Linked DNA regions of Homo sapiens: region 2 is linked to region 1. The links come from fine-mapping of genetic effects on gene expression. Tissue or cell type: lung. Region 1 holds a variant in brackets; the other region holds the start of a gene. All regions are shown on one strand. Distances are from middle to middle.

Region 1 (8,105 bases):
CCAGGCTGGTCTTGTACTCCTGGGCACAAGCAGTCCTCCCACCTTGGCCTCCCAAAGTGCTGGGATTACAGGTATGAGCCACCATGCCCAGCCAGCCAAAAATTAAATCTTGTTTTAAGCCAATAAGATATTTGGTGTTGTTTGTTATAGTAGCATAACCTAATTCTATCCTGCCTGGTACAAGCCTTCATTTCCTCATTGGTTAAATGGAGATATAAATAGTATATGCCTCCTTAAGATGTGAAGTTTATATAAGACAATGTATGTTTTTAAAAAACAGTCCATTGCCAGGCACATACTATTGTTAGATCAATGAGAGTTATGAAAGGGAAGTGAAAAAGCATCACCCTAGATCATCCAGCTTTTTAATGATAGAACCTGTTTCTTCAATCCTAAGCAGTCGTCTGCAGAGTCTGTAAGAGTGTGAATCATCTACTCAGATATGCAGATTCTGGCTCCCAAATATAGTCATTTTCACAAACATTCATGTTAACACCGGAATAATCATATGTTCCTCTCACTCCCCTTCTATTTACTTTGTCATTTGTCAATAGCATGTGTTCCAACCATAGAAAATATAACCTATTGAATTAAGCTTTCCTTTTTCTAAATAGGAGTAGCACTTCCTCATCAAGCATCTTCTAAAATTCTTTGTTCTGTCCCATTTACGTTATGCCAAGAAAGACTTCCTGGAAAAGATTAATATGCAATTTAGAGATATCATATTTGGGCAATGTCTTGAATATTAAATCACTTTTTGCTTTGTTACATGGTAGGATTATTACTACTTACCCAAACAAAAAGTAGTGATTCACAAGTTTAGGATCTGATAGAACATAGGAAAAAGCATAGTTAATCAACAAATACAAATGCAATATTACTGAGTTCCTGTTATTTTTAAGGCTTTATGTTTGGTTCTATGTTGAATATGTAAAAAGTGTTTGTTTCTGACCTTTCCCATTCCATTGAGATTTTGATACACTGCAAAGCAGAATAAGGCATGTCTTGGTCCATTCACACTGCCATAACAAAAATACTATAGATTAGCTGGCTCATGAACAACAGAAATTTATTTCTCACAGTCCTGGAGGCTGGGAAGTCCAAGATCAAGCTGCCAACAGAATCCATGTCTGGTGAAGTCACTCTTCCTGGCTTGTAGATACACTGTGTCCTCTCATGGTGTAAGAAGGAATGAACTTTCTGGGTGTTCTGTTATAGCAGCATAAATGGAAAAAGACAGCATGGAAACCCCAGCTACTAGCACTACAAGTTCTCTACATCACACATTGTGTACAGACTGTGGCCTCCCCAATGGGCAGGCAGTGAATGTAATAGCTGATTGAGTGAGGCATATATGGAACCATCTGAATGCTTGTTTATGGTCAGTTGGAGCTAATAATTGTTCAAATGGCCTCTTAAAATTGGTACGAATTCTTTCATTTCCTTCTCCAAAAGTGTTCACATTTTAAATTAAGATTGCTGGAAGAGGCCGGGTGCAGTGGCTCACACCGGTAATCCCAGCACTTTGGGAGGTCAAGGAGGCAGATCACCTGAGGTTGGGAGTTCGAGATCCAGCCTGACCAACATGGAGAAACCTCATCTCTACTAAAAACACAAAATTAGCTGGGCATGGTGATGCATGCCTGTAATCCCAGCTACTCAGGAGGCTGAGGCAGGAGAATTGCTTGAACCCGGGAGGCGGAGGTTGCGATGAGACGAGACTGCACCATTGCACTCCAGCCTGGGCAACAAGAGCAAAACTCCGTCTCAAAAGAAAAGAAAAGAAAAGAAAAGATTGCTAGAAGAGGAAAGTATTTAAACCGAGGATTAAGGTACATTGTAAAAGTTTGAGCATTGGGAGAAGAAAGCTTGGAACATTAAATCCTACAGGTTTGTGCATGAAGGATGGGTAAAATTTTGTCGTTCTGAAGAGGCTTTGCTTCCTCTAATGCACCATTTATATATTGCCAGACTTCTCAAAACACCCTTTAAAGGACTACTAGAGAACTGCATGGTCAGCATTATCTAATTTCCTCATAAATCTCTTGCCTTTTAATCAGCTAAGTGGCTATCTGCTAAATTTCCCTGATTTATTGATGTATTTTGAAGGCTGAGGATATGTCCAGATACTAAGTGATTAAATGTAGATGAAATGGCACATCACCATAATTATGACAGAAAAGAGAATCGTGACTAGGCATACGTAAGACCTCACAGAGACAAACTGTAGACAGCTTCTTAAAAGGGCAGCCCCCAGCGTTGCAGATAAAACTGTATTACCAAGCTAGTTTTTCCAAGAAAATCATCCCAACAGCTCTCATTAGAGATGCATTTGTATTTGCTGTCTCAGCAGTGCCACAGCAACCATGACCCCTTCAGAATTTACAGAGCGGAGACTTTGGCTGCTGACTAAACTGAAAGGTTAAAATCCTGGTTTCTGTTTTTACCTTAGCCACCAAACTCTGTGTGACCTGAGACAGATATTTCAACTTTTCTGAGACCCCAATTCTTTGTTTGTTTTTGGTTTTTGGTTTTTTTTGAGACAGAGTCTCACTCTGTCGCCGAGGCTGGAGTGCAGTGGCACTGTGTTGGCTCACTGCAACCTCTGTCTCCTGGGTTCAAGCAATTCTCCTGCCTCAGCCTCCCAAGCAGCTGGGATTACAGGCACGAGCCACCACGCCCAGCTAATTTTTGTATTTTTAGTAGAGACCTGGTTTCACCATGTTGGCCAGGCTGGTCTCGAACTCCTGACTTCAGGTGATCCACCTGCCTCAGTCTCCGAAAATGCTGGGATTACAGGTGTGAGCCACCGCGCCTGGCCGGGACCCCAGTTCTTCAACCGTTTTTTTCTAACCGACATAGTCAATGTTTATTTTTTTTCCCAGTAGATGTCCAGTTGCTCCAGAACCACTTGTTGAAAAGACTATCTTTCCTCCATTGAACTGCTTTTGCACTTTTGTCAAAAATTAATTTCAGCATATTTGTGTGAGTTTTTTCCTAGGTCCAATTGATCTATGTGTCTGTTCCTCTGCCAGTGTACCCAGACAGAACGAGGGGTCCAGCTGCTTGTTCTCATAGTTCAATAATGAGATGCAGACAGACTGAGAAAGAAGGGAGTTTATTTCTGCAACCGGTTTCAGGCAGGTCAGAGTAACTCACCCGACCAACTCAAATTTACAAGGTTTTTTTTTTTCAGTGCTTATACATATTCTAAGTTATTTGCCCATGTGTGGTAGTGCACCTAAAAGTGGCAGTGTTTCATTC[A/C]ATCTATATCTAATCTTTATCTAGGGTCTAGGGTCTGGAAAGCTTTCTCTAGAGTCTTGGAAAGTTTCTTCATCTTGAATGAGCTCTGGCACGAGGTGTATGTGTAAGAATGCCTTTATTATTTGATCAGACTTTAGGGCCGGAGAAAACCCAGGCCAGGTCTTAATGGGTTTGTTTTTGCATTCCAGCGCTCACCCTCAGGCACCAATTTCTTCAGTTTTTTTATGTTTAACTTACACATTCATCAGAAAAGGGTTAGTGAACCTGACTGTTCTGGTTGATAATGGAAACCTGGCCTGACATACCAGTGCCACAGAGGCTTAAAAAAAAAAGGGAAAAAACAAGAAAAAATAATATATATAATATATATTTTATATATATTATATATATTTATGACATATATATGTGTGTATAAGTGCAGGTTTCTTACACGTGTATATTGGGTAGTGGTGAAATCTGGGCTTTTAGTGTACCCATCACCCAAATAATGAACACTGTACACAACAGGTAATTTTTCAACCCTCACCTCCCTCCCACCCTGCCACTTTTTGGAGTCTCCAGTATCTATTATTACACTCTGTATGTCCACGTGTACCCATTGTTTAGCTTCCAACAATTATTCATCTGTTAACCAAAGGTAGCCCCTGATGAGGACAATCTTTATAATACCCTTTTTAAAACAAAACACTTTGATTTACAGGACGTTATGGAAGCACTATAAAATGTCAACACTATTGTTTATGCAAACGGTCTTTAGGTTGTTACAATTGTTAAAGTGCCACCTGCTGGAAAGTCCACCCATAAATATATACCAATTCCTTAAGAGGCTGAAGACAACTTTGTTTCAAAACACAAATAGTGAAAGTGACACCAGCAAAATCCTCTCTTCTTACAGTGTTGCCCCAGTCCAGTTGCACAGTATACTTCATCTACACAACACTATGGAAAATGTAGCAACTCTGTTATACTATTCATCAGTAGAGTTTGGGCTTTTTTTAAATACTTTTTTTTTCTAATTTAATGGGGGGTAGGGGACGGCTATGTTGCAACTATGTTGCCCAGGCTGGTCTCCAACTGTTGGGCTCAAACAGTCCTCCCATCTCAGCCTCCCAAAGTGCTGGGATTACAGGTGCCAGCCACCAGCAGTGCTGTTTGTTTGTTTGTTTGCTTGTTGTTTCTTTTTCTTTTTTGAGACGGAATTTTGCTCTTCTTGCCCAGGCTGGAGTGCAATGGTACAATCTCGGCTCACTGCAACCTCCGCCTCCCAGGTTCAAGCGATTCTCCTGCCTCAGCCTCCCAGGTAGCTGGGATTACAGGCATGCGCCACCATGCCCGGCTAATTTTGTATTTTTAGTAGAGCAGGGTTTCTCCATGTTGGTCAGGCTGGTCTCGAACTCCTGACCACAGGTGATCCGCCCACCTCGGCCTCCCAAAGTGCTGGGATTACAGATGTGAGGCACTGTGCCCGGCTGGGTTTTGTTTTTTTTTTTTAAATGGCATTAATGTCTACAAAAAAATTTTAAAATCAATAAATATTGTTCCAATAGGCTCTTAAAAAGCATTTAGAGGAGGTTTTCTTTTTTCTTTCTTTTTTTTGAGATGGAGTCTCATTCTGTTGCCCAGGCTGGAGTGCAGTGGCGTGATCACGGCTCACTGCAAGCTCCGCCTCCCAGGTTCACGCCATTCTCCTGCCTCAGCCTCCCAAGTAGCTGAGACTACAGGCGCCCGCCACCACACCCGGCTAATTTTTTTTTTTTTTTTTTTTTTTTTTTGTATTTTTAGTAGAAACGGGGTTTCACCGTATTAGCCAGGCTGGTCACGAACTCCTGACCTTGTGATCTACCTGCCTCTGCCTCCCAAAGTGCTGGGATTACAGTTGTGAGCCACCGCGCCCGGCCTTAGAGGAGGTTTTCAACTAAAGAAGGTGTGTTTCAAAAGCTTGTGCTTGATCCTGATTTTTAGCCTCAGGGATCAGCACGCATTTAGATAAATAATTTCTTATCTTCATGAATGGAATTTTCTAGTAAAATACTCACTTAAAGATTCTTTATGAAAATGGTTGTTATCAAATGTATTTCTGATTTTAAATGTTGTGATAACTTAGATTCAATCTCTGTAATAAGACAATTTATATCAACAATCCCTAGGAGAGTCTTGTGAGCAGCCGTGATTCTGTATAGGTCTGCAGCAACTCGATTCTTGCCTCCTCAGAGGAAATAATTAGTCTAAGAGTCAAGGCAGAGTGAGAGACCAAGGCACGTTTTAGAGCAGGAATGGAAGTTTATTAAAAAGCTTTAGAGCAGGGGCCAGGCGTGGTGGCTCACACCTGTAATCCCAGCACTTTGGGAGGCCGAGGCAGGCGGATCATTTGAGGCCAGACTAGCCAGACTAGCCTGGCCAACATGGTGAGACCCCCCAACACTACTAAAAAACACAAAAATTAGCTGGGCGTTGTGGTGTGTGTCTTTAATCCCAGCTACTCCGAAGGCTGAGGCAGGAGAATTGCTTAAACCCGGAAGGCAGAGGCTGCAATGAGCCAACATCATGCCATTTCACTCCAGCCTGGACGACAGAGTGAGGTTCTGTCTCAAATTTTTTTTGAAAAAAAAAGAAAAGCTTTAGAGCAGTAAAAAAAAGTAAAGTACACTTGGAAGAGGACCAAGCAGGTGACTTCAGAGATCCAAATGGAGTTTTGAGTCTCTCCTCCCTTGATTATTCCTTGGGGTGGACTGTCCGCGTGCGCAGTGCCTGCCAGCACTTGGGAGGGGTCGCATGCGCAGTGTGTTTACTGAAGTTGTGCACATGCTCATTTGAGGCATTTTTGCCCTTACCAGTCCAGGCTTCCTGGAGGGATGTCATATACCAGTTAAACTCCGCCATTTTGCATCTTAGTGTGCATGGGTGAGCACACTCACTCAGCTCCTAAGATCTTATTGGGAAGCTGCTGATAACCAGCTTCAGGTGTTTTGTATCTATTGGGAGACCGCCTTTCCCTGGTGCTAGCTGTGACCAGTTATTATTTTAGACGGAGAGTTTAAAAAGCGCCTGACCATCACCAGATGGTTGCCTAAGGTTCCTTAGGGAGAGCCCTCTCCTGTGGTGTTCATGTTTGCCTGCCCACCTACTCTAACAGTCTAATTTGAAGAAGTTAAGAGTTCATTGTTCAACAGGGTAGTCACCAGCCACATGCGGCTATTGGATACATGAAATGTGGCTAGTGACACACTGAAATAATATTTTAAATATATTGATTAAAATATATTATTTTTAAAAAATTTTTAAGATCTCATGTAAGCCAGATGTTTGAAAATAAATTTTTCAAGGAAGCAGTGTTATACAGGCTGGTTAAATTCCCAGTTCTCACAAATTTCTTTAAACCAGGATGCATAGCCTTGCACAGTATTATGATATAATAGCTGTCATTCATACCATTGCTTCTCTGGGACATTGTTTTTTAACTTGGGATGCCCTGATTGGAATTCCTCTGCCCCTCTCCAGATGAGGAGCAGGCAAAGGGAAAGACTAGGACTAAAAGGCCCAGCAAGAAAGAGAACAGAGCAGGGTAGGACAACTTGCTAACCACATGTGTCTGCATAGAAGGCTTTACTTTAGGTCAGTGTCCCCTTCAGTGTTCTCTACTGAGACAAAAGGTAAAGTTTATTTAACCCAAGAGGTGAGCTGACCAATGGGCTAGAAAGATGAAGAAAGGGGCCGGGCACGGTGGCTCACGCCTATAATCCCAGCACTTAAGGAGGCCAAGGGGGGCGGATCAACTGAGGTCAGGAGTTCAAGACCACCCTGGCCAACATGATGAAACCCCGTCTCTACTAAAAAATATAAAAATTAGCCAGGTGTGGTGGTGGGTACCTGTAATCCCAGCTACCCAGGAGGCTGAGGCAGGAGAATTGCTTGAACCTGGGAGGCGGAGGTTGCAGCGAGCCGAGATCATGCCACTGCACTCCAGCCTGGTGCAGAGCGAGACTCCTGTCTCAAAAAAAAAAGGAAAAAAGGCCACTGTTGACCTACAAGAGCTCCAACTGGGGTGAGGAAGGGCAGGTGGATAAACCACAAGCACTGTGGTAAGTGCTAAAAGGAAGATATGAGCAAAGACTATGGAAGCTTAAAGGCGGGTGGGACCCAGGCTGAGAAAGGGTTCCTAAGAGACTACATTTGAGATCAACCTTGATGGACAGATGAGATTTTTGTCACCTGAGATTCTCTACTTCACCATTACACCATTATCCCTATAGAGATAGAGTTTTATTTTTAAATTTTATTTTATTTTATTTTTGACACAGGGTCTTGCTGTCACCTAGGCTGGAGTGCAGTGGTGGCAATCATAGCTCACTGCAACCTCAAATGTCTGGGCTCAAGTGAGCCTCCTATCTCAACCTCCTGAGTGAGCTGGGACTACAGATGCATGCCACCATGCCTGACTAATTTTTTTTTCTTCTTTTTTGTACAGACAAGGTATCACTGTGTTGGCTGACCTTGAACTTCTGGCCTCCTGGCCTCAAGTGATCCTCCCGCCTTGGCCTCCCAAAGGGCTGGGTTTAAAGGTGTGAGCCACCACACCAAGCCCAGGTTTATTATTAAGCAAAATATTTTAGGAAATGTGTGCTCAGAGATCCCTGGCCTCCACCCCTGGAGACTGACTCAGTAGTTCTGGGATAGGGCTTGATAATCTCTATTTTTAAAAGCATCTCCAGTGTTTCTGACATTCTGCTAAGTGAGAATTAGTAATGAACTAGGAATCCAGTAATGAACTAAGAATCCATTTTCGTTTGGCATAAAACTCAGACAAATCACATCGCTTTCCTGTGCCTTCCCTTATTTATCTT
Region 2 (8,105 bases), 77 kb after region 1:
GAAACCCTGTCTCTACGGAAAAAAAAAAAAAACTAGTAGTGCGTGGCAGTGCATGCCATAGTCCCAGCCACTCAGGAGGCTGAGGTGGGAGGATCACTTGAGCCACGGAGGTCGAGGCTGCAGTAAGCCATGATCAGCCACTGCACTCCAGCCTGGCCAACAGAGTGAGAGCCTGTCTCAAAAAATGATGATAATAATAATAATAAACAATTAAATAAGAAGTATTCTCAGATACTCCTGGAAGTCTATGGTCTTCTATCACAATATTTTTCACTTGAGTTGACAGTAATAAATCACAAAAGCCAAAATTACACACTCCACTAAGGAATATATGGTTCTCATTATCATGAATGTCTGGCACATGGTAAGTGTTCAATAAACTTTTATTGAATGAGTGATCTGATATTCCTAATCATAGAGAAAAGTTGTCTGTACCCTATGGGGGCAGGTATATTAAGAGCTGGGGTCACTTAGAACATATCCTCCTCATAATGAAAACATAACAAGCTCTATGCCCCAATCTTCTCCCTGTATTTAGTACCCAGTTGCCCAAAAAGCCTCTTCTTGCCCCTTTTTGGTAAAAGGAATAGAAATGAGCTATGTGGTTATAAATCTCTCTCTGTATCTTGCCCATATGGTGATAACACATCATATCCATTCACCAACCTCTTTCTACACTCTCCCACCCTTGGTTCCCTGGCCACAGGTGGGGATTCACAAAGCTACTCAAACTTGGGACATGAGTTTTGACAACAAAGCTTAAAATATTGAGTATTAGGAGTACTGGATATCTGGTAAACCACTCTTTTCTGATTGCTGGGTCTGATAAAGAGAAACTGCAATCCAAAATCCAAGTGCTTGGATGGCTGCCAGAGGTAGGAATGGAAACTTTAATTAACAAAAGAGCCCAGCCAACCAAACAAGAAGCTCAGCCCAAGACCCTTGGAATAAAGACCAATAAAGGGAAGAGTTCAGGGAGGGAGGCAGAATGGAAAGGAAGACTTGTGAACCTTTGTCATCCCTCAGTCATTCACTCATTCATTCATTCATGTGCTAAGGGTTGTGGTAGATATAAAAAAGAAAAAGACACCATTTTTGCTGTTAAAGAACTTCGTCCATGGCCAGGCGTGTGGCTCACACCTGTAATCCCAGCACTTTGGGAGGCCGAGGCGGGCGGATCACCTGAGGTTGGGAGTTCGAGAACAGCCTGACCAACATGGAGAAGCCCCATCTCTACAAAAAATACAAAATTAGCCAGGTGTGGTGGTGCATGCCTGTAATCCCAGCTACTTGGCAGGCTGAGGTAGAAGAAGAGCTTGAACCCGGGAGGCGGAGGTTGCGGTGAGCCGAGATCGCGCCATTGAACTCCAGCCTGGGCAACAACAGTGAAACTCTGTCTAAAAAAAAAAAATGCCCATAACTGCTATTCCACAAGAAAGGAAAAAGCCCTCAAAGAGATACATAAAAAGGACATTCATAGACAAAAGAAATCTCATATTTAGGAGGCTACTAGACTGATTATAAAACATACCCGGATTCCAAAAGTATCAGAACATTAGGAGAGAAAAAAAAAAATCAGGCCAGGCACGGTGGCTTACGCTTATAATCCCAGCACTTTTGGAGGCTGAGGTAGATGGATCACCTGAGGTCAGGAGCTCAAGACCAGCCTGGCCAACATGGTGAAATCCTGTCTGTATTAAAAATTAGCCGGGCATGGTGGCAGGCGCCTGTAATCCTAGCTACTCAGGAGGCTGAGGCAGGAGAATCACTTGAACCCGGGAGGCAGAGGTTGCAGTGAGCCATGATCGTGCCGCTGCACTCCAGCCTGGGCAACAAGAGCAAAACTCTGTCTCAAAAAAAAAAAAAAAAAAGAAGAAGAAGAAAAGAAAAGAAAATCATTGTTAATTCTTATCACATCTTGTTAAACATACATCTTGCCATATCATCTGCCCCAGCCTCAAGGCCACTGGCATCTCCTGAAGCAATCACCAAATGTTCCCATCACCCAAGAATAGAGAGCTAATGGTGACAACTAACCCATATAGAGCACTGAAAGGAGCCAGGCTCTGTCTGCCCTTTCCTGCATAGTAACCTTGTAACAGCACTACAAGGTAGGTACTGTTATTATCTCCATTTTACAAATAAGAAAACTGGAGCACAGGCTGGGCGCGGTGGCTCACGCCTGTAATCCCACTACTTTGGGAGGCGGAGGTGGGTGCATCACTTGAGGTCAGGAGTTCAAGACCAGCCTGGTCAACATGGGGAAACCCCATCTCTACTAAAAGCATGAAAAAATTAGCCTGGCGTGGTGGTATACATCTGTAATCCCAGCTACTTCGGAGGCTGAGGCAGGATAATCGCTTGAACCCGAAAGGTTGAGGTTGCAGTTAGCTGAGATAGAGCCTCTGCACTCAGGCCTGGGTGACAGAATGAGACTCTGTCAGGAAGGAAGGTGACAGAATGAGACTCCGTCAGGAGGGAGGGAGGGAGGGAGAGAAAAGAGGGAGGGAGACTGGAGCACAGAGAAGTTAAGTGACTTGTCCAAGAAGGGAGGGAGGGAGGGAGAGAGGGAGACCGGAGCACAGAGAAGTGACTTGTCCAGGAAGGAAGGAAGGAAGGCAGGAAGGAAGGAAGGGAGGGAGGGAAGGAAGGAAGGGAGGGAGGGAGGGAGGGAAAAGAGGGAAGGAGACTGGAGCACAGAGAAGTTAAGTGACTTGTCCAAGAAGGAAGGGAGGGAGGGAGACTGAAGCACAGAGAAGTGACTTGTCCAGGAAGGAAGGAAGGCAGGAAGGAAGGGAGGGGCGGAGGGAGGGAACTGGAGCACAGAGAACTGATTTGTCCAAGGTCACCCAGCAGAAGGAAGGGAGGAAGGAAGGGAGGAAGGAAGGGAGGGAGGGAGACTGGAGCACAGAGAAGTTAAGTGACTTGTCCAAGACGGACGGACACGGACGGAAGGAAGGAACAAAGAAGGAGGGAGGGAGGGAGGGAGGGAACTGGAGTACAGATAACTGACTTGTGGAAGGAAGGACGGAAGGAAGGAGAGAGGGAACGAAGGAAGGAGAGAGGGAAGGAAGGAAGGAAGGAGAGAGAGGGAAGGAAGGAAGGAGAGAGGGAGAGAGGGAGGGAAGGGAGGGAACTGGAGCACAGAGAACTGACTTGTCCAAGGTCACCCAGCCAGGATTTGAGTCCAGAATGTGAGTGCCCTTAGCCATTACACTGAATTGCCTCCCAGCTGAGAACTTTTAACAAATGTATCAGGACATACACAACTGGATGCTACAAGGTGGTTTTCGGCCAACTTTCCCCTTTAAACACATGCATCAATTTCAAACTATTTATATGATAAAAAATGCTTACACCTTTATCGATCTCGTTTTTAAAATGGTATGGCTTTTCAGGACTATCTTTCACAATCGTTAAAGGGAAATTCGCTTTGTTAATATGAAAAAAAAATCAAATATCTGTTTCATGAGTTGTCAGTGGCCAACGCTGTTTAGACTACGGCTTGAACGCATCACCCCTTAAAGATCATCTTGTGGCCTTGGGCAAATTGCTTAGCCTTCTTTGTTTCTCCAGCGGCAAAGTGGATATAACAATAGTACCATCTCCTAAAGTGGTGAGGATTAGCTGATATTATCCATATAAATTGTTATGCACAGTACCTGACACAGAGCGAGTGCCCAATAAATGTCTTTCACTATTTAGGTCCTGGGTTCTCTCATTTCCAGAGTGCAAGTCCTCCAGCAACCACAGAAACGCTTTCTAGAGTCGCTGCCCACTCCTTAAAAACATTTGTCCCTACTTCGCACAGAGCATAGTGATACCACAAACAGGCTTCCCTGGACCCCAGCCCTGGGGGTGGCTATATCACCTCGCTCAGGCCCAGGAAGAGAGAGCCGGCTCTGGTCTCCCACCCGGCAGCAGCACAAAACTTAACCAGGATTTCTCACTTCGGTCAACTCTTGAATCACCGCGCCCAGTCTGGCTGGCTCGGCAGCAGATGGAATGAGGGCGCCGGCGCCAGGAAGTGGCGCTCACCCACCTGCCCAGCCCGAGGTGGGCACTCCTCCTTCACAGCATCCCCGGGGACCTCGTCCCTCCACCGCGGAACGCCCCAGAGGACCGACCTAATAGTGCCACAGGGTGGGTTTCCCCCCAAATCCTCCAAAATACATCGCCACGATTTCGAAACGGGAGCCGAGGGAGACGCACCAAGTGCTTCCCGACGCCAGGTGAAGCGCACCATACCTGGTGTGCGTGTTGAGCCCCGAACCGAAGTCCGTGCGGCCGCCACCTCTGCCTCCCTGCTGGGGGCCTCAGAGAGTGTGCTCCTTGTCCACGTGCGCGCAGGGCCCGCAGCCGCCCCCACGCCCCAGCGGAGCTGCAGCACGCCCCTTCCACTCACCAGGTGAAGAGTTTGCCTTTTATCCTGCGCAGCAGGCTGGAGAACTCGGCCGCCGCTCCCTCCGCGAGGGGCTCTGGGGCGCCGGGGCCCGCTGGCGAGTCTGCCTCCATCGGCGCCCTTGCGCGTCTCCGGCGCCCAAAACCCCCGAAGTGCCGGGTCCCGGAAGACGGGAGGCGGTGCCTGTGCGGCCGGCTGGGGCTCCGCTCTGGCCCTGCGCTCCCTCCCTCGCTCGCTTGCTCGCGTCCCTCTCGCTCCTCCGCTCGGCTCCTTCAGCGACCAATCATTAACTGTCAAGCCCTAAGGGCCAGACAATACATTTGCAGATTACAACCTGGCACCTCCAGGGTGGCAGGAGGAGAAAGGGCAATTTTTTTTTCGTCTTGGCAGCCGAGCCTTATTGTTGAGCGGCACCCAGTGTGCCTTCAGGTTTTTAGGGTTCCTTGTTTGAAATCACAAGATACAGTGACACGAGGTTATTGTAGGTGATTCCTAAGCTAAGAAGCGGTGAGTGAGCAGTGAGTTAGAAGCAGTGAGTGAGCCGGGACTCTCCTAACTGGAAGGACTGGCTGACCCCTCCTCTTCCCTCCCACTCTCCCTCCCTCTGGCTGATTTGTACAAAATCGCTTCATTAAAATAACTGAAGGCTGGCAGGGCGCGTTGGCTCACACCTGTAATCCCAACGCTTTGGGAGGCCGAGACGGGTGGATCACCTGAGGTCAGGAGTTCGAGACCAGACTGGGAAATATGGTGAAACCCCGTCTCTACTAAAAATACAAAAATTAGCCGGGCGTGGTGACGGGTGCCTGTAGTCCCAGCTACTCGAGAGGCTGAGGCAGGAGAATCGCTTGAACCCAGGAGGCGGCGGTTGTGAGCCAAGATCGCGCCTTTGCACTCCAGCCTGGGCAACAGAGGGAGACGTCGTCTTAAAAAAAAAAAAAAAAAAAAAAAAAACCTGAAGGCGCTTCAGGTCTGTGTCGCTTTTCCCTGCAAAACATGGGTAAGATCCTAAAAAGATCTTGGAAACGTGCCTTTGTGGCGTGGATGGAGGCGTGGCTCATTCCTCGCGGTGTGTTGGTTTTGTCTTTCAGTATTCAGTTGTCTCCGCCGTGCCAGGGAGAGAGACGGTGCCAACCCCCGGCGCTCGGCTTGGATGCCCTGCCCTGGCCACGCCTTCCGAGGCTTCCACGGGCTAAAGAGGGATTAAGAGACACTAAGCTGGGGTCGAAAAGTTCCTGTCACTGACCCCCTGCTTCCGGAAAGGAGGAGATCCAGAAAACAAAAGAAAAGGTGTTGGGACCTTTTATTTTTTCCTGGCCACCTGCTTTGGGGGTTGGGGTGGGTCAAAATAAACGTAGGTTCAAATAGACAGGCTGTGCAGACGAGCTGGCAATTCTGTAAGAGGAGTCTAAGAAAAAAAACAGCTTTCGAAAATGAAATATTACTTCAGGAACCCCAAGTTTAGCAGCTGCAGGAACCTCAAAAAAACCTTTGAAACTAAGAACGTGGTCATCCGTAGAGACTAATTAAGTATTATAATACAAGCATATTATGAAACAAGAGGACATTAGAAGCACATTTAAGATGTCACTTTTGTAAAGTAAACAACTCATTTAACCCTGCATATTGACAACGTTGAATTCTACCTGAGCCCTGTGCTCCTGGAAAGTAATGACAATTAAGAAACCTTCCTAGGCCGGGCGCGGTGGCTGACGCCTGTAATCCCAGTGCTTTGGGAGACCGAAGCGGGCGGATTACTCCTGAGGTCAGGAGTTCGAGACCAGCCTGACCAACATGGCGAAATCCCGTCTCTACTAAAACTACAAAAATTAGCCCGGCGTTTTGGTGTGTGCCTGTAATCCCAGCTACTTGGGAGGCTAAGGCAGGAGAACCACTTGAACCCGGGAGGCAGAGGTTGCAGTGAGCCAAAATCGTGCCACTGCACTTCAGCCTGGGCAACAGAGTAAGACTGTCTCAAAAAAAAAAGAAAGAAAGAGAGAAAGAGAGAAAGAAAGAAAGAGAAAAGAAAAGAAGCCTCCCACCTTTTTTTTTTTAATCAAAGATTTTGGTTGAATTTCTCTTCCTCCCTCATACCTCTGAACTTTCACCCACCCTGACCCTGAGCCGCAGGTAACCCCTCCTTAATAGCCCCTCCTGAGAAGTTGGCCTCAGGGTGAAACATTCTCTAATCTATTATCCAGTGGAGAGCCACCTTTTCATTCCACTTCCCACCAGTAGGGAATAGGCCCCCTCCTACTGCAGGAACCCTTCCCCACAGTCCCCACCCATCCCCATTTGCAATAATCCCTACAAATAAAGTCTCTCCTTAACCAAATTTGATTTTTTATTTGCAATATATACAGTAGTCACCTCCTTACCTGAGGTTTTGATTTCCACGGTTTTAGTTACCACAGCCAATTACCCTCTGAAAATAGGTGACTAGAGTATAGTAAGATATTTTGAGAGAGAGACCACATTCACATAACTTTTATTACAGTATATTGTTATAATTGTTCTATTTTATTATGAGTTGTTAATTTCTTACTGTGCCAATTTTATAAATTAAATTTTATTATAGGTATGTGTAGGAAAAAAGTATATACTGTATAGGGCTAAATACTCTCTGCAGTTTCAGACACCCACCGGGGGTCTTGAAACATAAGGGAGGACTACTATGTTTGATTATGTGAGTATGAAGAAAAATAGAAGATACACGTCAACACCAGTAACTTTAAAAGAGGGTGGGGGGCCAGGCACAGTAGCTCACACCTGTAATCCCAACACTTCAGGAGGCTGAGGCAGGAGGATTGTTTGAGCTCAGGAGTTTCAGACCAGCCTGGGGCTACATAGTGAGACAGTCTTTTAAAACACACACACAGACACACACACACACCCCCCAAAAAAAAACTCCGGCACGTATAATAGAGTCCCCCCGCTTTTATTTTTTTTTTCAGACGGAGTCTCTCTTTGTCAGGCTGGAATACAGTGGTGCGATCTCAGCTCACTGCAACCTCCAACTCCCTGGTTCAAGCAATTCTCCTGCCTCAGCCCCCCAAGTAGATGGGACTACAGGCATGTGCCCATGCCCGGCTAATTCTTGTATTTTTAGTAGAGACAGGAGTTCACCATGTTGGCCAGGTTGGTCTCGATCTCCTGACCTCGTGATTCACCTGCCTCGGCCTCCCAAAGTGCCAGGATTACAGGTGTGAGCCACCACGCCCGCCAATAGAGTCCCTGTTATGTCAAATGTATGCCTTTGTATAAATACATGAAATTAAAAGATGAATTTAGACATTGTAGCAAGCTGAATAATGTCCCCCAAAATATCCAGGTCCTAATCCCTAGAACCTGTGAATGTTGCCTTGAGTGGCAAAATGGACTTTGCAGATGTGATTAAGTTACACACCGTGAGATGGAGAGATTATCCTGTGGGCCATAATGTAATCACAGTGTCATAGGAGGGAAACAGAGGCCAGGCATGGAGGCTCACACCTGTAATCCCAGCACTTTGGAAGGCTGAAGCGGGTGGATCACGAGGTCAGGAGTTCGAGACCAGTTTTGCCACCATGGCGAAACCCCCATCTCTACTAAAAATACAAAAATTATCCAGGCATGGTGGTGCACGCCTGTAATCCCAGCTACTCAGGAGGCTGAGGCAGGAGAATCACTTGAATGCAGGAGGCAGAGGTTGCAGTGAGTTGAG

Evidence for each region. PIP is the estimated chance that this variant, and not a neighbour inherited with it, causes the effect.
Region 2: it holds the start of SLC35F2, and the variant in region 1 is fine-mapped to the expression of SLC35F2 in lung (TOPMed, PIP above 0.99).

What each region holds. Positions count from the first base shown.
Region 1 is chr11:107,776,926-107,785,030 of GRCh38, forward strand. No RefSeq gene overlaps it. Among named protein-coding and RNA genes, the nearest start is that of SLN, 69 kb to the left of the region's middle. The variant A/C (reference allele first, on the strand shown) is at 3,265.
Region 2 is chr11:107,854,253-107,862,357 of GRCh38, forward strand. SLC35F2 (solute carrier family 35 member F2) reads right to left here and starts at 4,535. Exons shown (of 8, transcript NM_017515.5): 1 at 4,406-4,535. The coding sequence starts at 4,515. LOC124902746 (a long non-coding RNA gene) reads left to right here and starts at 4,978. Exons shown (of 2, transcript XR_007062876.1): 1 at 4,978-5,402; 2 at 5,494-6,737. RefSeq lists an enhancer at 4,061-4,130 and a silencer at 4,351-4,660.